Regions from separate parts of the Homo sapiens genome. Here all the other regions are linked to region 1. The links come from fine-mapping of genetic effects on gene expression. A gene starts in region 1. Each other region holds a variant in brackets. All regions are shown on one strand. Distances are between the middles of the regions.

Region 1 (5,104 bases):
AGATGACTTGCGGTCAGGAGTTCGAGACCAGCCTGGCCAACATGGTGAAACTCCGTCTCTACTAAAAATACAAAAAGTAGCCTGGCATGGTGGCACACACCTATAATCCCAGCTACTCGGTAGGCTGAGGCAGGAAATGCTTGAAACCGGGAGGCGGAGGTTGCAGTGAACTGAGATTGCACCACTGCACTCCAGCCTAGGTGACAGAGCGAGACTCCATCTCAAAACAAAAACCAAAAAAACAAAAAGTTGCTGTGAAATTCTATGAATATTCATTAAAAGCACAGGATTGGGAGGGGTGGTAAAGGAAACTCACTGTGTCTAAGTTTCATCATGATGACCAGCTTGAAAGCAGATAGGTTCAAATCTGCTTGCTCTCTTCCTGTCAGAATGGGAGAAGAAGCAATTTGAAGACAGCTGGGAATCACAATGCCACAAGCCCCCTCCTAAGTCCCCTAAAGGTAAAATGTTAAAGAACATTATGAGGAAGGCGTAATAATTAGGAAAACTGGGAGAAGCTGGAGCTAAAGCCTCATATGGCTGAGTCCACACAGAGAAGGCAGTGTCATACTACCCAAAGGGAGGAATAGGTCTCAACCTCATCCGGGGTGGAGTCAGTGGCTCAAAGCCACTGGGCTTTGAGCCCAGTGGGGTCAAATGGGGTCAGATGGGGTCTTTGGTCCTTATTCCTCCACACTGTAGTGTTATATTCTAGGTAGGGGACTAGTGCTCAACACCTCCACACTGAGGGGAAAGGGACATGCAAGGATGGTCTATTTCTATATGGGGTGATAATAGTGCCTCTTTTCCCAAGTAGGGGATTCTATATCTCATCTACCCTGGGAGAGGTGGTGGGGAAGGGCGTAAATAGATCTCAGGAGTCTACCCTGGGGAAAAGGGGCCTGAGAACAGGGATTCTTACCTGAGTGTCTATATGGATTGAGATAAGTACAAAATCTTGGAGGAGGGGGTAAAAATCTGTGCCTGCATATGCCTGGGGTCTATACCTTGGTGATTTGGGTTGGGGGGATTGCCATCTGTCCCTCTACTCTGGGGTGCAGAGAAACTGGGGAAACCCACAAAGTGGCTGTGTGCATCTCTGCTGCATGGGGAAAGAATCACAGATCTGTTTATCTCTAGATTGTGGGGATGGGTCCTGCGTCTCTTCACCCTGGAGAGGGCTGTGGTACAGGATCGATATGCCTGATTCCACAACTATGCAGCTTTGAATAAGCGGGTCTGCACCTTACCTGCAGTGAGCTATTCTGGACCCTTCTATGGAAGGTGGACTGTGACAACTTTCATCTTTTATGCTGGTTGAAGTCAGCGGCACACTAACACTGAAAGAAATAGGGGCTCTGGTTCTCTGCATGGGTGGTGTGTGGAGGGGGCTGGCAATGCAGCTATAAATTAATAGATCAGCCCTAATACTTGGGGGTGGGGGCGTCTGTGATTCTACCCTGGGTGGAGAGAAACAGATCTGAGCTCCACTACCTTGGGTAAAGGGGAGAGACCATACGCACTGAACTGCCAGGTAATCAGCGATGTCACTCCCTCTCAACATTACAGGGAGGGAGACCTGCATATCTGCTCCTGTGGGGTATCTCCCTTGCTACATTTAGTGATTCTAAATCTTTGGGGGAGGTAGGGGGAGGTAGGGGGATGATCTGTGTCTACCTCAAAGGGAGAGGAACACATCTGAGCCCCTCTACCCCCACGGCCCCTCAAGGGGCAGACCTGACTGTCTCTTCATGGATTAAGGTCTGTTCCTGTTTGCTTCGAAGCATGTTGGGTGCTTCGAAAAATTACACATTCGGTAAAACGGGGGCTACGGAAGTAGGGATCAGGTCTGATTCTCCACAATGGGGACTCACTCTAACCTAAGAGGAGGGGGCAATTGGCTTAGTTGTCCATAAGCTGAGGCCTGTAACTGCAACCACTTTGGGGACGGGTGAGTTGGGGAGCGATACTGAGGGCTCTGAGTCTACGCGTATGGGGAGGAGGTGCCCTCCCTCTGTATATTAAATGTTTCTAAGCTCCTCTATGCTGGTATGGGGGCAGATACATCAAAGCCTCTGTCTGTCCTGAGGAGGTGCCTCGAGACGGCTGTCTAGAGCCAAGCCAAGGAAGTGCCTTAAGTCGGGAGAAGTCTGCGCTGCTCAGCTGGGTGGAGGGAGATGTCTCTACACGGTTGGGGTGGATGTCCCCCATGCCTTTGGTGGGTCGACTCCTGTCTATACAAGGTGAATGCAGAATGAAGCCTCACTATCTTGAGGACGATCAACGCTTCACCACACAAGTGAAGTTTGTGCCTCTCTACACAGTGTGTCCCGGGTCTACACCTTTCTAGGTGGGATGGGGCAATGCCCCTCTCCCGGCAAACTCCACTCCGCGAAAAGGCAATTCGGCGCGTCTCCACGTGTGCCGCGATCCCTGCCCCTCTTCCGGTCCCTTCTACCCTGGAAGGGATCCTGCTGTTTACCTCTCTATTCCAGGTTGGCGGGCATCTCTGGTTTCACATCCAATAGACGATCCTAACTGCCCGGCCGTCTAGGTGAGCGCACATTGTGAGAAAAGAGGAGAGAAGTTTCTTACTTACACTTCCGGCGGGGATCTGAGAAGCGAGGGCAACACGACAACTCGGTTGAGCGAGCAGAAACTCTCGCGCAGCTAGGCTCCGACTTCCGGATCCCAGGCCGGCGGCGCCCGACTCCGCCCACCGTGCGGTCTCCGCGGGGGGGGGGGGGGGGGGGCGGAGCTTCTGACTGACAGCTCACGCCCGCCCGTCCCTTCTTCGCGACCACGCTGGCCCCGCCTCCTGCCTGCCCCGTAGTTAAGGAAATAGCGGAGGAGGGAGAAGGAGGACGGGGAAATGACCGGGAAGAAGCGGCGGGTCGACTGGTGCGGCCATATACCTTACTTGCAAGCCAAAATTTTGTCTGCGGGCATCTGTCTGGGGTTAAATATGCGTGCTCCCAAATCTCAATAACCAGGCAGTCACCACGCCCGAATCAGACAAGGGTGGGGGATGGTGTCTTTGTCTGCCTGGAAGATGGCGACAGCAGGGTGTGAGAAAATGGCCGCCTGGGTCACGTGTCTGGCCGAGTATTTCCCCACCTGAAGTGAATTGGTTAGCTATTCCCAACCACCTTCCCGGGTCCTTGAGCCCCAGACCATCCCTGAGCACTCCTAGCTTTTTCTGCATACGTTCAGATCTATGGCCATACCCAACCCGAGCTGGAGCAGGAGCCAGAACGACTAGAAGCCTCTCCCACACTAGAAGCCTCTCCCACCCTTTTGCCTTCTTCCCCTCCTACTCCATCCTTCCCTCAATCCCGGAGCAGCGTCTGCAGAAGGGAATGAATTTATATCTCTGGAGTGGGGCAAGTAGGGGTTTCTGAAGCCATCTCAAGGAGCTGGCTGGGAAGTGAGGTCTCCCCCACAAAATAGTAAATATTAGTCTGCAAATGTTTTCTTCTTGATGGTTTAATTCCAGCCCCTCCTCTTCCTCAAGCCTAAACCCTGGGGTGGGGCACAGAGTAGGTGGAACTCTGTGCCTCCGAGGGTGGGTTTGTTTCTCCACTTCAAGCACAGACGGGCTGAAAATGACTCCATCTGTCCCTTTATCCCTTACATAAACAGGACTCACTACCTCTCTACATCGTTGGAGGGCTTCTAACCTCTCATCCTAGAGACACATGAAATTCCTCTGGACCTGAAACCAGCCCTGACCACTTTCACCTTTCCCCCTGCATTTGCAATTTTGCTCTGTTTCTCTAAGACCTAACTCTTGTCACTTCGATGAAACCTTCTCTGACTTTCGCAGATGAGTTAGAAACCCAGAGCACCTTACCTATACAGCTAAGCTAGCACTTATCACAATACTGTAGTTGTTTATGTGACTGTGTCTCCACAGGAGGGTGAACTCCCTGAGAGCAGGGGCCATGTATCTTCAAGCTTTCAACAACACCCAGCACAAGACTGGTATGAGGCAGGCTTCAACAACTGTTTGTTAAATGGGTGAGTTTACAGGCCTGCACCACAAAAAATGGGAAATGGGCTGTTTAGTAGATGGCATTGGGAAATTTGGCTCTCCATGAAAAGAAATATAAAACTGGATCTCTATTTATTCCACCTAAGAGGGTAGACTGTGAATGTGAAAGGTAAAACTATGAAGTTAATATATGCAGGAGAATATCTTTGTGACTTGTGACTGGGGAAGGACTTTTTAAACAAAATCCCAAATGCACAAGATATAAGGGAAAAAATACAATGAAATCTTGTGGAAACTAGTTATTACGACTTTGGAAAACAATTAGGAAGTATCCAGAATAGCTGAAGATGACCCTGGGACCCAGCAGTTCTAGTATTGGAGATGATTGATTAATAGGTAGATAGATAGATAGAGATCACCTCTAAACTTTAACTCCTAGAGAAATTCTTATACACTTGCTCAATGAGCATGTGGAAGAATGTTCATTGCAGAACTGTTTGTAATAGAGAAAAAAATGTGAACAGCCCAAAATTCCACCAACAGGAGAATGAATAAGTAAATTATGGTATAGCCATATGACAGAATACTATGCAGAATACTATAATGAAAAAGAATGAATCATGTTGCATGCATTGACCCAGCTAAATTTCAAAAACACAATACTGAGATAAAATACAAATTGCAGAGGACACATAAAGTATGAAACCATTTATATAAAGTTTTAAAATCTAGAAAACAGCAAACAATGTTGCTTATAGATTATATAGATATATAAACAATAATTTTTTTTTCAGACAAGATGTTGCTCTGTCGTCCAGGCTGCAGTGCAGTGGCTTGATTTCCTCTCCCTGCAGCCTCCACCTCCCTGACTCAAGCCATCCTCCCACCTCAGCCTCCCAAGTACCTGGACTACAGGCATGTACCACCACACCTGGCTAATTTTTGTATTTTTTGTAGAGACAGGGTTTCACCATGTTGCCCAGGCTAATCTTGAGTTCCTGAGCTCAAGTGATCCAACCACATCTTGGCCTCCCAAGGTGCTGGGATTCCAGGTGTGAGCCACCGCCCCCAGCCAACAATAATTTTTAAGGAGAAATACCAAATCCAGAA
Region 2 (5,104 bases), 87 kb before region 1:
GGTATAGAAGTATGTAAAACAGGCTGGGCACAGTGGCTCACATCCGTAATCCCAGCATTTTGGAAGGCCGAGGCAAGAGGATTGCTTGAGCCCAGGAGTTCAAGACCAGCCTGAGCAATACAGTGAGACCTTGTCTTTAAAAATTAAAAAAAAAAATTGCGCAAAACAGAATGTATAAGCCCCCATCCTCCCTACTCCTGTAACTCCTACTCCCGCAGTTAATGTTTGTACCTATATTTCCAAAAGTTTTTATATATATACAAAAAATAATTATTTACAGAAATGAGATTAATACACTATTGTGAAACTTTCTCTTTCTGCTTAATAAATTGTCATCATCTTTCCATGTCGTGTTAAACAGATACTTTATTATTTTTAAAAGCAGCTTAGTAATCTTTTATGTATATATTGTATATACCATTACTTATTTAATAATTTCATTGTTGATATTTCGATTATTTCCAATTCCTTATTGTGAACAATAATGTAATAAATGTCTTTGTATATATATATACTTGTGTATTTCTGTAGAATAAAATCTAAAAGTGCATCAAAGGGTATACATGCTTAATATTCTGATACATGCTGCCAAATTGCCTCCAAAAGGTTCTGCCAGTTTACACTCCCACCATCTGTGTATGAGTGTCCATTTCCCCTCACTAACCCTAGGTTTTAGCAAATCTGGCAAGTGAAGACTGGTATCATGGTGCTTTAATTTTTATTATAAGTGAGATTGAGCCCCTTCTTAGATATTTATTGCCCATTTGTGGGTTTTTTTTAAAAACAGGGTCTCACTCTGCCACCCAGGCTGGAGTGCAATGGCACAATCATAGCTCACTATGGACTTGAACTCCTGGACTCAAGAGATCCTCCTGACTCAGCCTCCCAAGTAGCTGGGATGATAGGTGTATGTCACCATGTTTGGCAATTTTTTTAAATTTTTTTGCAGAGATGGTGTCTCACTATGTTGCCCAGCCTGGTCTCCAACTCCTGGGCTCCAACTCCTCCTGCCTCAGCCTCTCAAAGCACTGGGATTACAGGTATGAGCCACCATGCCCAGCCCAGTCCATTTGTGTTTCTTCTGGGAATTGTCTATTTGTGTTCTTTATCCATTTTTCTATTGTGATCTAGTGCTTATTTTTGAGCATGGAAGTCATGTGATCAGAACTAGACTCCAAGAAGATCAATCTTACTGTAGGGAAAATGACTAGAGGCAAGATTACCACATCACCTAGAACATGGATCTGTTGAAAAGAGAGAATTCGTAAGACTTCGAAGGAAAGGGCTGACTCTAGGCTGATGCTCAAGTTTCTGTTTGGATAACTGAGCAGACAGAGGGGCTATTTGCTGACTTGGGAAAGCCAGGAGGAGGAGCAAGTTTAGAAGGACTAGGGGGATGAAGATGATAAGCAGAGTTTAATATATGTTGAGTTTCAGATACTTGCAAGACTGCCGGGGCAGATAATCAGGAGGCCTTCAAATATAAATGTCTAGAGCTCAAGAGGGAGGAATGAGCAAAAGGGAAAGATCTAGGAGCCATCAGCATACAGATGATAACTGAAGCCAGCTCCTATATGTGGCCTCTCCAGCATGGGAAAGCCAGGGGAATAAATGAGATTTTTTTTAACTGAGAGCTAAATTTTTTTAAAGTACTCAAATTTAGAGAATAGGAAGGAAAAGAATATATAAAAGAGACTGAGAAAGGCCCATGAAGAAGACTGAAAGAGACCCATTGGAATAGTGGGAGAATCAGTGTCTTAGTCTGTTTGGGCTGCTACAACAAAATACCATAAACTGGATAGCTTATAAATAACAGAAACGTATTTCTTACAGGTCCGAAGGTGTAGAAGTCCAAGATCCAACTGCTGACAATTTCAGTGTCTGGTGAGGGCTCATTCCCCATAGATGGTGATTTCTAGCTGTGTTCTCACACAGTGGAAGGGGCAAACAAGATCCTTCAGGCCTCTTTCATAAAGGTACTAATCCCATTTATGAGGTCTCCTCATTATTTAATCACCTCCCAAAGGCTATACCTCTTAATTCCATCACCTTGGAGGTTAGGTTTCAACATATGAATTTGCGGGAAGGGAGTACACATTCAGACCCCAGCAACCAGAGAAGTTTCTGAAAGCCAGAGTAAGTTTCTAGCGGGGGGAAAATTGTCAACAGAGATAAATGTGGTGACAAATTAAGGAGAGAGAAAACACAGCTAAAAGCCACTGAATTTAACAAGTAAGAGATAGTTGGTTGATGGTGGTAGATGCAATTATAGTAGAGGGCAGAGGGAAAAGCCAAATCACAGTGGGTTGATGAGTGGGTAAAAGGTGAGGAAACGTAAGTGTGAACAACTCATTCAAGAAATTGTTTTGTGTGAAGGAGAAGGCTTATGGGGAAGTAGCCAAAGGGATGTGGGTTTCCTTTTTCCAATGGAAAAATA[T/C]TGAACATCCTCCAATGCTAATAGAAGGTAAGTTGAAACTTCTGAAAAGAAAGGGATAATTGGTGAAGTAGCTAAAGAAACAGAAGAGGATGGGATCCAGGCACAAGCACAGAAGTTTTCTCTTTCCCCAGATTCTTGGCACATGGACTTGAAATCTAAAGAACAGCCTCCTTCTTGGTTAAGAATGACCTTTTCCTTTTCCCACACAAATAACAAGCCAGTTTAAGTAGTGGACCAGTTAGCCAGTTGCTTCCCACTACACAAAAGGAAACAATATCATGGGATTAAATCTATGCTAATTAACTCAGATTTCTATAAGAAACTTCTCAACTAACTGGTGAAGCAAAAATTGGTCCCATCCTCTCTACCAAAGTTAACTGACATGGAAATAAACACAATAGTAACAAACCCCTTACAAGCTCATACTATTTATGGAATATTTTTGCAATTGTGCACATTCATACCCCCCAGGCCCTGAGGCTAACACTATCCAGTTGACTTGGGGAGAAGGAGCCAGGGTCAGCAGTAGCCTTACTCTCAAAGCCTAAAACTGAAAAATGCACAGTGTAAGGCTGTCTACAACAAGTCATCCAGTTTATTATCAAAATAAAAATATTTTAATGTGCCTGTTAAGGAGTTGTTAGGTTCAGGGGGGGAAAAAACTAAAACGGGAACAAAAACTACTTAAAAGTAGAAATAATTTTGCCAAAAGACTTTTCAAATATATTTAAACAAGACTTCCTGTCTCTATCCATGGGCAGTTAGTTACTTTTCCCCTTAGTGAGTGTGAGTGACTAACACACTCCAATTACAAGAAATGGAAAAACCATGAAATGAAAGGCAATTCCAAATAAGTTAAAATATTATGCTAAGTTTGGTGCATATAATATGTTCCTTATTTTGAACATCCAGAAAGGTATGCAATTTTTATTAAAAAAAAATTGGTTTTTCCTTTCTCCTGCCAAATAAATGCTGAACAAATATTTAAAGAATATCAGTTTGAAGAAGAACCCTTTCTGTAGCCTGCTTGTGGCGCCCATATGGCGGGCACTGCCCTTGCCAGGCCTTCTCACTGTGCCCAGAGAACACTGAACCTCTTATTCACCACCTCTTGCCTATCCAGCCATATCATTCAATGAGTTCCTCCAGCTCTGTGCTAGATACCACAAGAGAGACAAACTGAAACCATGATAATATTAAAATCACAGGAGAGTTGATTAGTTTCAAAGTGATGACATCCGTGAAACAGCTAACAGACTGCCTGGCACATAACAAATGCTTACTGGAAATATTTTACTTTTTCAGTTACATTTCCCAGGTTTCAGAAAAGCTGTTGACACAGGCTTCTCCTGGGATTCAGAAGTACTGGCTTCTGGGAGTGGTGGTGGGCGCCTGTAATCCCAGCTACTCGGGAGGCTGAGGCAGGAGAATCGCTTGAACCCGGGAGGCAGAGATTGCAGTGAGCTGAGATCACGCCACAGCACTCCAGCCTGGGCAACAGAGTGAGACTCTGTCTTAGGGAAAAAAAAAAAAAAGCAAGTACTGGCTTCTGGGAAAATTCCCTTCATCTGTTTTCGAAGGTAAAGAAAATGCACAGACTAGATGAAAAGCAGAGGTGGAAATACTTAGTAGAGATAAAGGGGAAGACTTCGTCTCCAGTTAACTCCATTAACATCTCCAGCCTTTTATTGGGTTTTTAAAAATTTTTTATTGTAAAGTATACATATAAGGTGCTGTGAAAAACAGTTTGACAGTTACTCTAAAAGTTAAACATGGAGTTGCCATATGACCCAGCAATTCCACTCCTAGGTATTTACCCAAAAGAAATGAAAACTAGTACGCAAATACATGTACCTGTATGTTCATAGCAACACTATTCACAATAGCTAAAAGGTGGAAAGAGCCCAAATGTCCATCAACATATGAATGGAGAAACAAATTGTGGTATTTACTTACAATGAAATATTATTCAGCCATGAAAAGGAATGAAAAACTGATACATGCTACAACATGGATGAGCCACAAAATCATTATGCTAAGTGAAAGAAGCTAAACACAAAAGGTCACATATTTAATGATTCTATTTAATATGAGGTATTCAGAACAGATAAATGCATAGAAAAAGAATGTAGATTGGTAGTTTCCAGATGCTGTGGAAGTGAGAAATGGGAATTGATTTCTTGATGGTAATAGGGTTTTCTTTTGGGGTGATGAGAATGTTGTGAAACTAGATAGATGGAGTAGTCGCACAGTAATGCCACTGAAGAGGACACTTTAAACTAGTTTCAGGTGTTTGGCAATCATGGCGGACGGAGGGCAAGATTAGATTGCAGCTCTGGACAGAGCAGTTGGTGGAAGCTCACGTTGTAAATTTCAGCTCCAGATCAACTGCAAGAATCCCAAGCAATCCCAAGAGGACCCAAAGACCCTCTGAAGGAAGCAGACTGCACCTGCAGGACCCAGGAGACGCCCCAAATACTGTGAGCGCCCGAACAGCGGAAATGGGAAAGGGAGACCCTCCTCTCCTGAACACACACTCCCATTGGAGAAGCTGAAGTTCTGTTTGCAGGACAAGTTTCTGACTTTACCTGGAGTTGAGTCAATTTAGAGAGCCGAGCGAAATATAGGGGTAGAGGAAGCAGCAGAAAGGCCCGGGGAGCTGGCTGC
Region 3 (5,104 bases), 66 kb after region 1:
AGCAAGACTCTCTCAAAAAAAAAAAAAACAAACAAACAAAACAGTACCAGATATATACAGTAAGTGCTCAATGGATGTAAGCTTTTGTTATTTTTACAGTGCTATGATAGAGCAGAGAATGGGAGGCTGTGGGAATCCAGACAAATGGACCAAGCCTAGCTTGGAGATTACAGAAGGATTCAGGGAGAAGGTGATGCCTAAGCTGAGTCCTGAGGTAGAAGGGCAAGGTTTACAGGCAGCCTCTCAGGCCTTCTTCCAATCCAGCCTTTAGAGTCCACACCATTTGCCAGAACGGTCTCTCTAAACAAGTCAGACCATGTCTCTCCCTGCTTAAAATCATGTCCACATTCCCCATACCTACAGATTCTCCACACCTACAGAGTCAAGTGTGTCCCCCTCACCAGACTGTGACCACAGAAAGCCAGCATGAAGCCTGGTTCCTATATCTCCCCACGAGTCTGTGAACCCTGAGGGCTGGGACCAGGTCTGGTTTGCTTTGCTCCTGCACCAGACTGACCAATGAGGAGTACAACCAGGCCTGGTCTCTTTGTCTCACCTACCAGATGGTGACCCTCTCAGGGCTCAAATGGGTGTGACTCATTTCTGTGTCCCCAGCATCACCCAGCACACAGTTGATAATCAGTATATGAAGTGGTCCTGGCAGTAAGGTCTCAGGGTGAGTACTTCAACCAGTACTCGGGCAGGGCAGAATTGAGGCAGGTGGCATCCCAGGCTGTGGTCTGAAGTCAAGCCGAGCCTCTTGGCCTCACTGGCCTGTAATGTAAGCAGCATTTCTGAAGGAGCAGACTAGCTGAGAAGTAGGTTTCTAGGACTGAGATGAAAGGTATCTGCCTGGGGCTGGAAACTTGTGGGGGAAGTTTCTGAGGGGCAAAGAGCAGCAGGACCACATCAGCCCCTAATTCCACCCCAGGGACCGCTATCCACGCATTGGAGACATCCTGCAGAAACTGGCCCCCTTCCTCAAGATGTATGGTGAGTATGTGAAGAACTTTGACCGGGCCGTGGAGCTGGTCAACACCTGGACAGAGCGCTCCACCCAGTTTAAAGTCATCATCCATGAGGTGCAGGTAAGTGGTCAAGCTGGAAGGAGCAGACTTGGGGAGGAGAGGTCTGCAGGGATGTGGTGGGGCATCTGCAGCCAGATCTGAGCCCCTCTGCTTCTGCCTGTCACAGAAGGAGGAAGCCTGTGGCAACCTGACATTGCAGCACCACATGCTGGAGCCTGTGCAGCGCATCCCCCGCTATGAGCTTCTTCTCAAGGACTATCTGTTAAAGCTGCCCCATGGCTCCCCGGACAGCAAGGATGCCCAAAGTGAGTGTGTGCACCCAGGCCCCTTCCTACTTCTCCACACTAATAGCTCTAGGCCAGACCTCTGAGGCAGGACCCCAAGACTTAATTCACAGGGTCGGCCTTCCATTGCCACATGATTGAAATCCCAGAGGAGAATCTCCAAACTGAAAGGCCCACATTGAGGTTCTGAAGTGAGACCCCAGGATGAGATCCTCCTTCTGAATGTTCTCTTTGGGTATTCAGGCAGGGACCTCTAAGTTGAGACCCCTGCCTGAATACCTGTAGAGAACATTCAGAAGGAGATCCCCAACCTGAACTTCCCAACTGGAACCCCAGAGTTTGAGTGGCATGCCCATTATGATCCCCTAAAGGAACTCATCCATTTCCTAGATCGAGACCCCAAGGCTGACCCCTAGACTCACCCCCAAATGAAGTTGTACCAAATGAGAAAGGAAACTGAGCCTGAAACCTCAGGGACTGAGCCACCAAGCTGAGAGGCCAGACTGACCCCTCAGGCCAAGCCCACATCACAGAATCTCCACAGCTGAGCTCCCCAGAAAGAGCCCTGGCTCATCAATTTTCCATCCTCCAGATTTAGAGCTTTCCTCCATGTCCGCCAGCCACTACCCAGAATGAACCTCCCAAAAGAACCTCCAAATTGAGCACCCTAGACTGGACCCCAAATTTTCCACCTCTCAAATTTGGATCTCTAGGCTGAGATACCTCCTCCCCAGACTGAATCCTTACACATTGAACCACTAGAAAAGTCTTCTATCCCGATTCCTCCAGTATCAACCTGAACCCCACACCCCAGATAGAGCTCCCCCCGCCTACCCCACTTTCTCTTCCCCAGATTTTCATTCATTCATTCATTCATTAGTTTAACAGCTACTTACTGAGCACCTCCATGTTTTTGTGCATTGTTCTAGGTACTGGGGATATAGAGGTGAACAAAACAGACAAGGTCCTTGATCTCAGGGAGCATATATTCTAGTCAGCAATGAGACACAGTAAACAAAAATAATAAACACACAGTAGAGGCCGGGCGCAGTGGCTCACGCCTGTAATCCCAGCACTTTGGGAGGCCAGGCCGGGGGATCGCCTGAGGTCAGGAGTTTGAGACTAGCCTGGCCAACATGGTGAAACCCCGTCTCTACTAAAAATACAAACATTAGCTGGGCGTGGTGGCGGGCACCTGTAATCCCAGCTACTTGGGAGGCTGAGGCAGGAGAATTGCTTGAACCCAGGAGGTGGAGGTTTGCAGTGAGCCAAGATTGCATCACTACACTTCAGCCTGGGCAACAGAGCGAGACTCCTTCTCAAAAAAAAAAAAAAAAAAAAAAAGAGCTGGGCGTGGTGGTGGGTGCCTGTAATTCCAGCTACTCGGGATGCCAGGGCAGGAGAATCACTCGAACTCGGGAGGCA[G/C]AGGTTGCATTGAGCTGTGATTGAGCCACTGCACTCCAGCCTGGGTGACAGAGCGAGACTCCATCTCAAGAATAAATAAATAAGTAAATAAATACACAGTAGAATATTAGATAGGTGCTGAGTATAATTCAGAGAATTAGAAGAGGGTGGCATGACAGTGGCTGGAGAGCCTACTTGAGATTGGGTGGCCTGTCTGACTAGAAGACAGTGAGTCAAAACCTGAATAAAAAGAAGGTAGGCACATGCCTGTTGGGGTTGAGCATGTTCCAGGCAGAGGCCACAGCAAGTATAGGGTCCAAGGCAAGGGGAGATATTAGGGGAGGTGGGGTGCTGGACAGGTTGCATATCTCTGGATCAGGAAGAAGGTCAGTGTGACCTGAACATGACAAATAAGAGTAGAATGGTAGAAATGAGGTTGGAGAGAGGAGCAAAGACTGAAGGCCAAGATAAGGAGATGGATTTTATTCTGAGTATGGTGGGTAGCCATGGGAAGGTTTCGATCATGATTACTTGGGGAGCAAGAGAGAGAGAGCTGAGAGATCAGTTAGAAGCCTTTTGCAATAATCCAAGTGAGAAAAGTTGGCTTGGATGAGGACAGTAGCAGTAGAATCGGTGAGAAATGGTTGGATTCAGGATACATTCTTTTCAGAAGCAGCACTGAGAGGACTAGGGTGGAGTGGATGCTGGGCTTGGGAGCAAGAGTCAGGAATGACTTAAAGGTTTTTGGCTGGTGGTGATGGTTCCTGAGATGATCTTAGGAGTCTGACTTTGGACATGTTCAAAGTGAGCTGCTAGTCAGGCAGTTAGATGAATCTAGAATTTCAGGGAGAGATTTGGATGTCATTGGCACATAGATAGTATTCCAAAGCCATAAGGCTGGCCAAGATCACCAAAGGGAGTGAGTGTAAAAGGAGGGGAAAGGGGGCCAAGGACAAAGCTCAGGGATGTGGAATCACCAAAGGAGACTTAGAAGGAGCAGCCCTAGGCTGGGCGCGGTGACTCACACCTGTAATCCCAGCACTTTTGGAGGCTGAGGCAGGTGGATCACAAAGTCAGGAGTTCGAGACCAGCCTGGCCAACATGGTGAAACCCTGTCTGTACTGAAAATACAAAAATTAGCCAGGTATGATGGTGCACGCCTGTAATTCCAGCTAGTCAGGAGGCTGAGGCAGTAGAACCACTTGAACCCGGGAGGCAGAAGTTGCAGTGAGCCGAGGTGGCGCCACTGCACTCCAGCCTGGGTGACAGAGCAAGACCCCATCTCAAAAAAAAAAAAAAAAAGAAGGAGCAGCCCTAAAGGTAGGAAGAAAACCAAGAAAGTGTGGGGTCCTAAAAGCCATAAGAATGGGGTTCGAGGCCGGGCGTGGTGGCTCACGCCTATAATCCTAGCAATTTGGGAGGCTGAGGCGGGCAGATCACCTGAGGTCTGGAGTTTGAGACCAGCCTGGCCAAGATGATGAAACCCCATCTCTACTAAAAATACAAAAATTAGCCAGGCGTGGTGGCCGTGCCTGTAATCCCAGCTACCCTGGAGGCTGAGGCAGGAGAATCGCTGGAACCCGGGAGGCAGAGGCTGCAGTGAGCCAAGATCGTGCCACTGCACTCCAACCTGAGCCACGGAGTGAGACTCCATCTCAAAAAAAAAAAAAAAAAAAAAGAATGGGAAGTGGACAGCTGTGTCCACTGCTGTGTCCGCTTCCCAAACTGAGCCTTCTCCACCCTGCCAGATGGGGCACTTTGCTACCAAGCCTGGACCCCTAGAAAGAACTAGGCCTCTAGAAAGTTTAATAGCTAAGCTCTACAAGCAGACATCTGCAGCATAAGTAAGTACCTCATTCCTCCTGCTGAAAAAGAGCCCTCACTGAGGTGCCAGCCTAAACTTCTAGAAAGGGCCTTCCAGACTGATTGTCTGGGATGGGCCCTATGGACTGACATCTCCAAACTGAACCTTCATACTAAGCCCATTCTGAGGTCCCAGTTATAGATCCCAACACTGGTTTCTCAAACTAAGATCCCCAGACTGGGCCTCTTCCCACCTGGAATACTCTTCCCACACTGAGCCCTGAGAGTGGGTTCCCAGTGAGAGCCTTCAGCTTGAGGTCCCCAAAAGAGCTTCCCAGTCTGATCTCCTTGGCCACCATTCTATAGACAAGTATTGCCAAACTGAGCACCCTAGATTAATTCTCCTATTTCATATCCCTCAGACTGAAACTTTCAGCCTGAACTTAAAAGACTGACTCTCCAGGTCCATCCTACAGACTGAAGCCCCACTGAGCCCCAAGACTGGATTCTCTGAGTTCCCCAGAGGGAACCCTGAAATTCAGCAGCCCAGACTGAGCTCCAGACAGAGATTCCAGATTGTGTTCT
Region 4 (5,104 bases), 60 kb before region 1:
AGTAGTTGGGACTACAGGCACCTGCCACATGCCTGGCTAATTTTTGTACTTTTTGTAGAGACAGGGTTTTGCCATGTGGCCCAGGCTGGTTTCCAACTTCTGGGCTCAAGCGATCCACCTGCCTCAGCCTCCCAAAGTGCTAGGATTACAGGCATGAGCCACTGCGCCCAGGCAAAATTCAACATCTTTTCATGATAAAAACTCTACAAAATTGGGTATAGAAGGAACATACCTCAACATAATAAAAGCCATATACAAAAGACCCACAGCTAGTATCATACTGAATGGGGAAAAACTGAAAGCCTTTCCTGCGAGATCTGGAACACAGCAAGCATACCCACTTGCATCACTGTTATTCAACATAATACTGGAAGTCTTAGCTAGGGCAATCAAACAAGAGAAAGAAATAAAGGGCATTGTAATTGGAAAGGAAGACATCAAATTATTCTTCATTGTAGGAGATATGGTTTTATAGTTGGAAAAACCTAAAGACTCCACAAGAAAACTCTATTAGAACTGGTAAATTCAGAAAAGTAGCAGGTTTCGAAATCAACATACAAAAATCAGTAGCATTTCTATATGACAACAGTGAACAATGTGAAAAAGAAATGAAAAAAAGTAATCCCATCTACAATAGCCACAAATAAAATTAAATACCTAGGAATTAACCAAAGAAGTGAAAGATATCTATAATGGAAACTATAAAACACTGTTAAAAGAAATTGAAGAGGACACCAAAAATTGAAAAATATTCCATGTTCATGAATTGGAAGATTCAGTTTTATTAAAATGTCCATATAACCCTAAGCAATCTACAGATTCAATGCAATCTCTATCAGAATACCAATGACATTCTTCACAGAAATAGAAAAAAAAATCCTTAAATTTATATGGAACCACAGAAGACACAGAATAGCCAATGTTATCCTTAGCAAAATAAACACAAAATTGAAGGAATCCCATTACCTGACTTCAAATTATACTACAGAGCTTTAGTAACCAAAACAGCATGGTACTAGCATAAAAACACACACATAGACCAAAGGAACAGAGTAGAGAACTCAGAAACAAATCTACACACCTACAGTGAACTCAATTTTTTTTTTTTTTTTTTGAGACAAAGTCTCGCTCTGTCACCCAGGCTGGAGTGCAGTGGTGTGATCTGGGCTCACTGCAACCTCCACCTCCCGGGTCCAAGCGATTCTCCTGCCTTAGCCTCCTGAGTAGCTAGGACTACAGGCGCCTGCCACCACACCCAGCTAATTTTTGTATTTTTAGTAGAGATGGGGTTTTGTCATGTTGGCCAAGCTGGTCTCGAACCCCTGACCTCAAGTGATCTGCCAGCCTTGGGCTCCCAAAGCACTGGGATTACAGGAGCGAGCCACTGCGCCCCGCCTAAGTGAACTCATTTTTTACAAAGGTGCCAAAAACATACACTGGGGGGAAGACAGTCTCTTCAATAAATGGTGCTGGGAAAACTGGATATCCATATGAAGAAGAATGAAACTGGGCCCCAATCTCTCACCATATACAAAAAACAAATCAAAATGCATTAAATTCTAAATCTAAGACCTCAGGCTGGGGACGGTGGCTCACGCCTGTAATTCCAGCACTTTGTGGGGCAGAGGCAGGTGGATTACCTGAGGTCAGGAGTTCAAGACCAGCCTGGCTAACATGGCAAAACCCCATCTCTACTAAAAATACAAAAATCTGCCAGCTGTGGTGGTGTGCATCTGTAGTCCCAGTTACTCAGGAGGCTGAGGCAGGAGAATCGCTTGAACCCAGAAGGCAGAGGTTGCAGCGAGCCGAAATCGTGCCACTGCACTCCAGCCTGGGCGACAGAGCAAGGCTCTGACTGACTGACTGAATGAATGAATGAATGAATGAATAAATAAATAAATAAATAAATAAATCTAAGACCTAAATAAATAAATAAATAAATACATAAATCTAAGACCTCAAACTATGAAACTACTACAATAAAACACTGGGGAAAATCTCAAGCACATTGGTCTGGTAAAAATTTTCTTGAATAATACCCAATAAGTACAGGCAACCAAAGCAAAAATAGGATCACATCAAGTTAAAAAGCTTCTGTACAGCAAGGGAAATGATCAACAAAGTGAAGAGACAATTCACAGAATGGGAGAAAATTATTTGTAAATTACCCATCTGACAAGAGATTAAATAATCACAATATATAAAGAGTTCAAACAACTCTTTCATCAATGGAACCCACCACGTCAACAGACTAAACAAGAAAAATCATATAATCATATCAATTGATGCAGGAAAAAAACTAAAAATTTGATCAAAATTGGGCAAAATATTTGAATAGACATTTCTCAAAAGAAGACATATACATGGCAAACAAGTATATGAAAAGATGCTCAACATCATTCATCATCAGAGAAATACAAATCAAAACTACAATGAGATATCATCTCACCCTATTTAAAATGGCTTGTGGGCTAGGCGCGGTGGCTCACGCCTATAATCCCAGCACTTTGGGAGGCCGAGGCGGGCGGATCACAAAGTCAGGAGTTCAAGACCAGCCTGACCAACCTGGTGAAACTCCGTCTCTACTAAAAATACAAAAATTAGCTGGGCATGGTGGCACGTGCCTGTAATCCCAGCTACTCGGGAGGCTGAGGCAGGAGAATCGCTTGAACCTGGGAGGCAGAGGTTGCAGTGAGCCGAGGTCACACCACTACACTCCAGCCTGGGCGACAGAGCAAGACTCTGTCTCAAAAAATAATAATTAATAAAAAAAAAAAATGGCTTGTAACCAAAAGACAGGCAATAACAAATGCTGGCAAAGATGTGGAGAAAAGGGAACCCTTGCACACTGTTGATGGGAATGTAAATTAGTACAACCACTATGGAGAACACTTTGGAAGTTC[C/T]TCAAAAAACTAAAAATAGAGCCAACATATGATCCAGCAATCCTACTGCTGGGTATGTACACAAAAGAAAGGAAATCAGTATAAGGAAGAGATATCTGCACTCCTATGTTTGTTGGAGCACTGTGTACAATAGCTAAGACTTGGAAGCAACCTAAGTATCTATACAGATGAATGGATAAAGAAAATGTGGTACACATACAAAATGGAGTACTATTCAGTCATAAAAAGAATGAGATCCAGTCATTTGCAACAACATGGCTGGAACTAGAGATCATTATGTTAAGTGTAATAAGCCAGGCACAAAAACATAAACATCACATGTTCTCACTTATATGCAGGATCTAAATATCAAAACAATTGAACTCATCGACATAGAGAGTAGGATGGTTACCAGAGGCCGGGAAGGGTAATGGGGGATTGGGAGGGGAAGTAGGGATGGTTAATGGGACAAAAAAAAATAAGACTATTTTTCCATCTGTTTATAGGGTGACTATAGTCAATGATAGTTAGACTATTTTTTCCATCTAACTATTTATAGGGTGAATATAGTCAATAATAGACTATTTTTCCGTCTATTTATAGGGTGACTATAGTCAATAATAACTTAATTGTACATTTTAAAGAGTGTAATTGGATTGTTTGTAACTCAAAGGATAAATGTTTGAGGGGATGAATACCTCATTCTCCATGATGTGTTCATTTCACATTGCATGCCTGTATCAAAACATCTCATGTATTCCATAAACATATATACCTATGTACGCACAAAAATTTTTTAAATTAAAAAAAGAAAAAATCAGTATCAAAAAATAACAAGAATATCTTCAAACACTTGGAAACTAAACAACCCATTTTGAAAATGATACATGGGTCAAAGAGGAAGTATTTCAAAAGGATATCAAAAAAATTGAATTGAATAAAAAATAAAATAAAGCATAATAAAATTTGAGGAATAAAGTTAAAGCATTGCCGATATGGCTGGTTCCACTTTTTTTTATTTTTTATTTTTTTTGAGCCGTAGCGCGATCTTGGCTCGCCGCAACCTCCACCTTCCGGGTTCAAATGATTCTCCTGCCTCAGCCTCCTAAGTAGCTAGGATTATAGGCGTGTGCCACCACGCCTGGCTAGTTTTTGTATTTTTAGTAGAGACAGGGTTTCACCACATTGGCCAGGCTGGTCTCGAACTCCTGACCTCAAGTGATCCACCCGCCTCAGCCTCCCAAAGTGCTGAGATTACAGGCGTGAGCCACCACACCCGGCCTGGTTCCATATTTGTAATCCATCAGTGGAATCTACCATGTCAACAGACTAAAGTGAAAGAAAAACCATATAATCATATCAAGTGATGCAGAAAAGCACTTGATAAAATTGAATACCTATGAATGAGAATTTTTAAGCTCTCAGAAAAAATAGTAATAGATGGATATTTTCTTAATTTCACAAAGAGCATCTAAAAACGAACATACAACTAACATTACAAAAAATGGTAAAAGACTGAATGCTTTTCCCTAAGATATGGAACAAAGCAAAGATGTCTTCTCATACCACTTCTATTCAACATTGTACTGGAAGTTCTAGCTGTGCAATAGGCAAGAAAAAGAAATAAGAGACATACAGATTGAAAAGGAAGACATAAAGCTGTCCAAATTTGCAGAGGACATGATAATCTACATAGAAAATCCCAAAATAGCTACCAAAATATCTCCTAGTACACATTAGTGAGTTTAGCAAAATCACAGATTACAAGATAAACATACAGAACTCAATTATATTTCTATATAAAAGCAACGACCATGTGGAAACGGAAATTAAAAGTACAACCCTGGCCAGGCACAGTGGCTCACGCCTGTAATCTAGCACTTTGGGAGGCTGAGGCAGAAGGATCACCTGAGGTCAGGAGTTCGAGACCAGCCTGGCCAACATGGTGAAACCCCATCTCTGCTAAAAATACAAAAATTAACTGGACATGATGGTAGGTGCCTATAATCCCAGCTACTCGGGAGGGTGAGGCAGGAGAATCGCTTGAACCCGAGAGGCAGAGGTTGCAGTGAGCTGAGATCGTGCCACTGCACTCCAGCCTGGGTGACAGGGTGAGACTCCGTCTAAAAAGAAAAAAGAAAAAAAAAAAAACACCCTATTACAATTGTTCCAAAAATTGACACTCAGATGTAAATCTAACAAAACATGTATAGGAATTACAT
Region 5 (5,104 bases), 97 kb after region 1:
ATTAGTAATGTACATTTTAAGATTTTTGTCAAACTTGGGAAAATTTCTAGTTTCTTTTACATGTGAGCTGTAAGATTTCAGGTTATTTTAACTTCTCTTGGCACAGCGACAAATCTTAAACATTCTTCAAATAGACCAGGCTCAATAACCAGAGACCTGGAAGTGGCCTGTGCAAGTGTGGGGCCCTGATGCTTAAGATTGATTTGTTCTACGATAAATCTATCTCTGTGCAATGCCCAGGGAGAAAGGAGCACAGGGACTCATGGGAGTTCAGCAGAGGGTCCCTGACCCAGCCCTGGGGGCTGTGGCAGGCCTCTCGGAGGAGATGACACGTGAGCTGATTCTTAAAGTTTGAGTAGAATTTTGCTGGGTGATGGGGGAGTGTGTGTGTATGGGGGTGGAAGGTGTTACTGAAAGGAGGAAAGAGCCTTCTGTGCAGGGGAAAAATGTGTGCAAATACACAGAGGCAGGAAGCAACATGGTGTGTGATGATAATAAGAGCAGTTCCAGACTGAGAGAGAACCTCAGGGGCATAGCCTCCTCCGTAGCTCCAGAGACTCATTTTTTGTAGAGTCAGCAATGTAGATTGAGTTCAGAGAGGCCCAAATGAAGATATTGAAAACCTCAGTTGAAGTTCCCACAATCTGAGGCCTCAAACATACACAGAGAGAATAGACCTGCTAGATATCCCCACACATGGAGTCCCTCTCTGGGATGTAACAAACCAAGGCCTCTGAATGAACCCTTAGCTTTGAGACTGAAGTCCAAGGCCGAGTATCCTAAGTACCAAACGTCTTCACCTTTTTTGTGACTTGAACCCCCATCGGCAATCTGGTAAAGTCAATATAGCTCTTCACAGAATGTTTTTATTTTATTTTAAAATTTCTGAGGCAGGATAATCGCTTGAACTCAGGAGGTGGAGGTTTCAGTGAGCCGAGATCGTGCCACTGCACTCCAGCCTGGGCGACAGAGCCAGATTCCATCTCAAAAAAAACAAAAAAACTTATTTTGCAGAGACCAGGTTCTCACTATGTTGCTCAGGCTGGTCTCAAACTCCCGGGCTCAAGTAATCTTCCCTCAGCCTCCGAAAGTGCTGGGAATACAGGCATGAGCCTAGCCCAGAATAATGTTTTTAAATGCATACAATAAAATATAGGTTTACAAAGGAAGTCAAGTATGTTAAAATACAGTTATCAAAATATTACAGAAACACCATTCCAAATTGTGTATTTGTTTGCCAATTTTAAAATTGCAATCAGGCCAGGTGCAGTGGCTCACGCCTGTAATCCCAGCACTTTGGGAGGCCAAGGCGGGCAATCACCTGAGGTCAGGAGTGCGAGACCAGCCTGACTAACATGCTGAAACCCCGTCTCTACTAAAAATACATAAATTAGCTGGGCATGATGGTGCACACCTGTAGTCCCAGCTACTCTACTCAGGAGGCTGAAGCAAGGGAATTTCTTGAACCGGAGGCAGAGGTTGCAGTGAACCGACATGGCACCACTGCACTCCAGCTTGGGCAACAGAGTGAGAATCCATAAAAATTAAAAAAAAAAGGAAGGAAGGGAGGGCGGGAGGGAAGAAAGACACAGACACCCCAAAATTCTATGCATGATGCTTTATAAGTCCATGTATCCCAAACTCAACTCCCAGTATGACACCCTAGACTGAGCTCCAAGATTAAAATGCAGGTTGAACCACCACATTGAATGTGCAGAGGATGCTTCCAGATAGAAAATTTCAGCCGGGCACGGTGGCTCACGCCTGTAATCCCAACACTTTGGGAGGCCAAAGTGGGTAAATCACAGGGTCAGGAGTTCAAGACCAGCCTGGCCAACATAGTGAAACCCTGTCTCTACTAAAAATACAAAAATTAGCCGGGCGTGGTGGCACGTGCCTGTAGTTCCAGCTACTCGGGAGGCTGAGGCAGGAGAATTGCTTGAACCCGGGAGGTGGAGGTTGCAGTAAGCCGAGATCACGCCACTGCACTCCAGCTTGGGCAACAGAGTGAGACTGTCTCAAAAAAAAAAAAAAAAAAAAAAGAAAGAAAAGAAAATTTCAGATTAGGACCAAGCCTGGCATCCCAAGACAGAGCCCACCAGACAGACATCCCTGGGTGAGGCCATCACATCCGTATCTCCTAGGCTTGACCTCAGGCTAAAATCTCCAGACTGGGCTTCCAATACCTGAGCAGACTGAGCTCTGAAACTGGCACTCACTC[G/A]GTGAGAGGCTTAGTCATATGTCAGAGAAAATATCAGGCTCCCATATCAAATCCTCTCCCAACTGAAACACTAGAATTAGTGTCTCAAGAGTGAACCATCTGGGCAGATTCCTTGAGTCCAGGAGTTTGAGACCAGCCTGGGCAACATGGCAAAACCCTGTCTCTGAAAAAAATACAAAAATTAGCAGGACTTGGTGGGACATGCCTGCGGTCTCCAAGCTACCCTGGAGGCTGAGGTTGGAGGATCAGCTTGGGCCCAGGAGGCGGGGGTTGCAATGAGCAGAGATGGCAGCAGTGCACTCCAGCATGGGTGACAGAGCCAGATCCCTGTCTCAAAAAAAAAAAAGAGTGAACCATCAACATGTAAACCCTTAACCTTAAAGTCATGTCCCCATAATGCCCATAATGAGCCTCTAGGTAGAGCCACGGGACTGAGTCCCCAAACTTAGCTCCTTGAAGGAGTATGGGGACTGGGACTGATATCCTGCAAATGGGCCCAGGGTGAGTTCCCAGAAGGACCCATCACATACTAAAGCCACAAACTCATCCCCCCTGCTGAAAGTGTAGACTGAGCCCATGTTCTGAAACAGCTTCCCTCAGACTGAAAACCTAATATCTGAACCTGGAAATAACATGCCCAAGGCCGGGCATGGTGGCTCACGCCTGTAATTGGAGCACTTTGCGAGGCTGAGGCGGGCAGATCACTTGAGGTCAGGAGTTCGAGACCAGCCTGGCCAACATGGTGAAACCCCATCTCTACTAAAAATACAAAATTTAGCCAGGCATGGTGGTGGGCACCTGTAGTCCCAGCTACTTGGGAGGCTGAGGCAGGAGAATTGCTTGAACCCGGGAGTCAGAGGTTGCAGTGAGTTGAGGTCGCGCCACTGCACTCCAGCCTGGGCGACACAGCGAGACTCTGTCTTAAAAAAAAAAAAAAAAGTGAAAAAATTAGCTGAACGTGGTGGCACTTGCCTGTAGTCCCAGCTACCCGGGAGGCTGAGGCAGGAGAATCACTTGAACCTGGGAGGCAGAGGTTGCAGTGAGCCGAGATTGTGCCACTGCACTCCAGCCTGGGTGACAGAGCGAGACTCCATCTCAAAAAAAAAAAAGCCCAAAATGAGCCCTAGAGGGAATCCCCAGAGGGAACCACCGGTATGCACCTATGGTAGCCATGAGACTTCATCTCACAGACCGTAAGCTACAGGGGATGAATTTAATCAAGGGCCCCAGCTGCTGTTCTGAAATCCACCCTTGTATTTGCGCAGACATTGCTTGCCATCAGCTGAGTGCCAAAAACTACCAATAACTGAGTGCAGCAGGGATACTTTGGCAAATTTGGCTCAAAGAATCCTGGATAATTGCTTGAGCCCAAGAGTTCAAAACCAGCCTGGGCAACATGGTGGGACCCTGTCTATAGAAAATCAAAAAATTAGCTGGGTATGGTGTGCACTCCTATAGTCCCAGCTACACTTGGGAGGCTGAGGTGGGAGGAGTGCTTGAGTCAGGGAGTTCGAGGCTGCAGTGAGTCGTGATCTTGCCACTGCACTCCAGCCTGGGCAACAGAGTGAGACCCTATCTGAAAAAAAAAAATTTAATGGAAGAAAGGAGCAGTTTCTTAGGACTGCTTTTTTTTTTTTTTTTTTTTTTTTTGAGACAGAGTCTCACTCTGTTGCCAGGCTGGAGTGCAGTGGCATAATCCGGGCTCACTGCAACCTCCACCTCCCGGATTCAAGTGGTTCTCCTGCCTCAGCCTACTAAGTAGCTGAGATTACAGGCACGTGCCACCTCACCCGGCAAATTTTTGTATTTTTAGTAGAGACAGGGTTTCACCATATTGGCCAGGATGGTCTCGATCTCTTGACCTTGTGATGCACCCTGCCTTGGCCTCCCAAAGTGCTGGGATTACAGGGTGTGAGCCACCGTGCCCGGTCAGGACTGCTTTTACATAAGAGAAATAAAAGGTTTGAGCCGGATTCGATGGCTCACACCTGTAATCCCAGCACTTTGGGAGGCCAAGGTGGGAGGATCACTTGAGCCCAGGAGTTTGAGACCAGCCTGGGCAACAGGGAGACCCTGTCTCTACCAAAAAAAAAAAAATTAAAAAAATAAGCAGATATGACTAATTTACCGGCATGGCACATGCTTGTAGTCCCAGCTACTCTGGAGGCTGAGGTGGGAGGATTGCTTGAGCCCGGGAGGTCTAGGCTGCAGTGAGCAATGATCAAAACAGAGTGAAACTCTGTGTCAAAAAAAGAAAAATAGAGGTTTCTATCTTGTTTAAGCCATCATTATTTGGTGTCTCTTTGTTACATGCAATCACATCTGATGCCAGCTGAGCCCTCTTGAGTGAGCCAATGCCTGAGCTCACTCAGAACTCACTCGGAACTCCCGGACTTCTCTCAGGAGAGTGAATGCCACTGGGTGCGGTGGCTCACGCCTGTAATCCCAGCACCTTGGGAGGCCGAGGCGTGTGGATCATTTGAGGTCAGAAGTTCAAGACCAGCCTGGCCAGCATGGTGAAACCCCGTCTCTACTAAAAATACAAAAAATTAGCCAGGCGTGGTAGTGTGCGCCTATAATCCCAGCTACTTGAGAGGCTGAGGCAGGAGAATCACTTGAACCTGGGAGGCGGGGGTTGCAGTGAGCCAAGATCATTCCACTGCACTCCAGCCTGGGCGACAGAGCAAGACTCCATCTCAAAACAAAACAAACCAAAACAAACAAAAAGTCTGAATGCCCATGCTGAGCACCCAACAGTGAGTGATCCAGACAGAGCTCCTGACTGACTAATACAATGAGATTGATCTCAGGTATACCAGTGCCTGAACCTCTGGACAGACTACCATAAAGCAGGTGGCCCAAACAGTTTCTAGACCAAACCCC

What was found.
Region 2: its variant is fine-mapped to the expression of GNL3L in whole blood (TOPMed, PIP above 0.99).
Region 3: its variant is fine-mapped to the expression of GNL3L in whole blood (TOPMed, PIP above 0.99).
Region 4: its variant is fine-mapped to the expression of GNL3L in whole blood (TOPMed, PIP above 0.99).
Region 5: its variant is fine-mapped to the expression of GNL3L in lung (TOPMed, PIP above 0.99). The same link has a PIP of 0.9 or more in blood mononuclear cells.

Annotation. Positions count from the first base shown.
Region 1 is chrX:54,527,798-54,532,901 of GRCh38, reverse strand. GNL3L (G protein nucleolar 3 like) reads right to left here and starts at 2,683. Exons shown (of 16, transcript NM_001184819.2): 1 at 2,483-2,683; 2 at 317-382. The coding sequence starts at 335. RefSeq lists enhancers at 2,278-2,537, 2,548-2,607, 3,058-3,107, 2,762-3,282.
Region 2 is chrX:54,614,573-54,619,676 of GRCh38, reverse strand. It overlaps a transcript of GNL3L not described here. Among named protein-coding and RNA genes, the nearest start is that of GNL3L, 87 kb to the right of the region's middle. The variant T/C (reference allele first, on the strand shown) is at 2,438.
Region 3 is chrX:54,461,680-54,466,783 of GRCh38, reverse strand. It overlaps FGD1 (FYVE, RhoGEF and PH domain containing 1), which reads left to right. Exons shown (of 18, transcript NM_004463.3): 7 at 932-1,088; 8 at 1,195-1,333. Among named protein-coding and RNA genes, the nearest start is that of TSR2, 24 kb to the right of the region's middle. The variant G/C (reference allele first, on the strand shown) is at 2,738.
Region 4 is chrX:54,587,603-54,592,706 of GRCh38, reverse strand. It overlaps a transcript of GNL3L not described here. Among named protein-coding and RNA genes, the nearest start is that of GNL3L, 60 kb to the right of the region's middle. The variant C/T (reference allele first, on the strand shown) is at 2,904.
Region 5 is chrX:54,430,792-54,435,895 of GRCh38, reverse strand. No RefSeq gene overlaps it. Among named protein-coding and RNA genes, the nearest start is that of TSR2, 7.1 kb to the left of the region's middle. The variant G/A (reference allele first, on the strand shown) is at 2,222.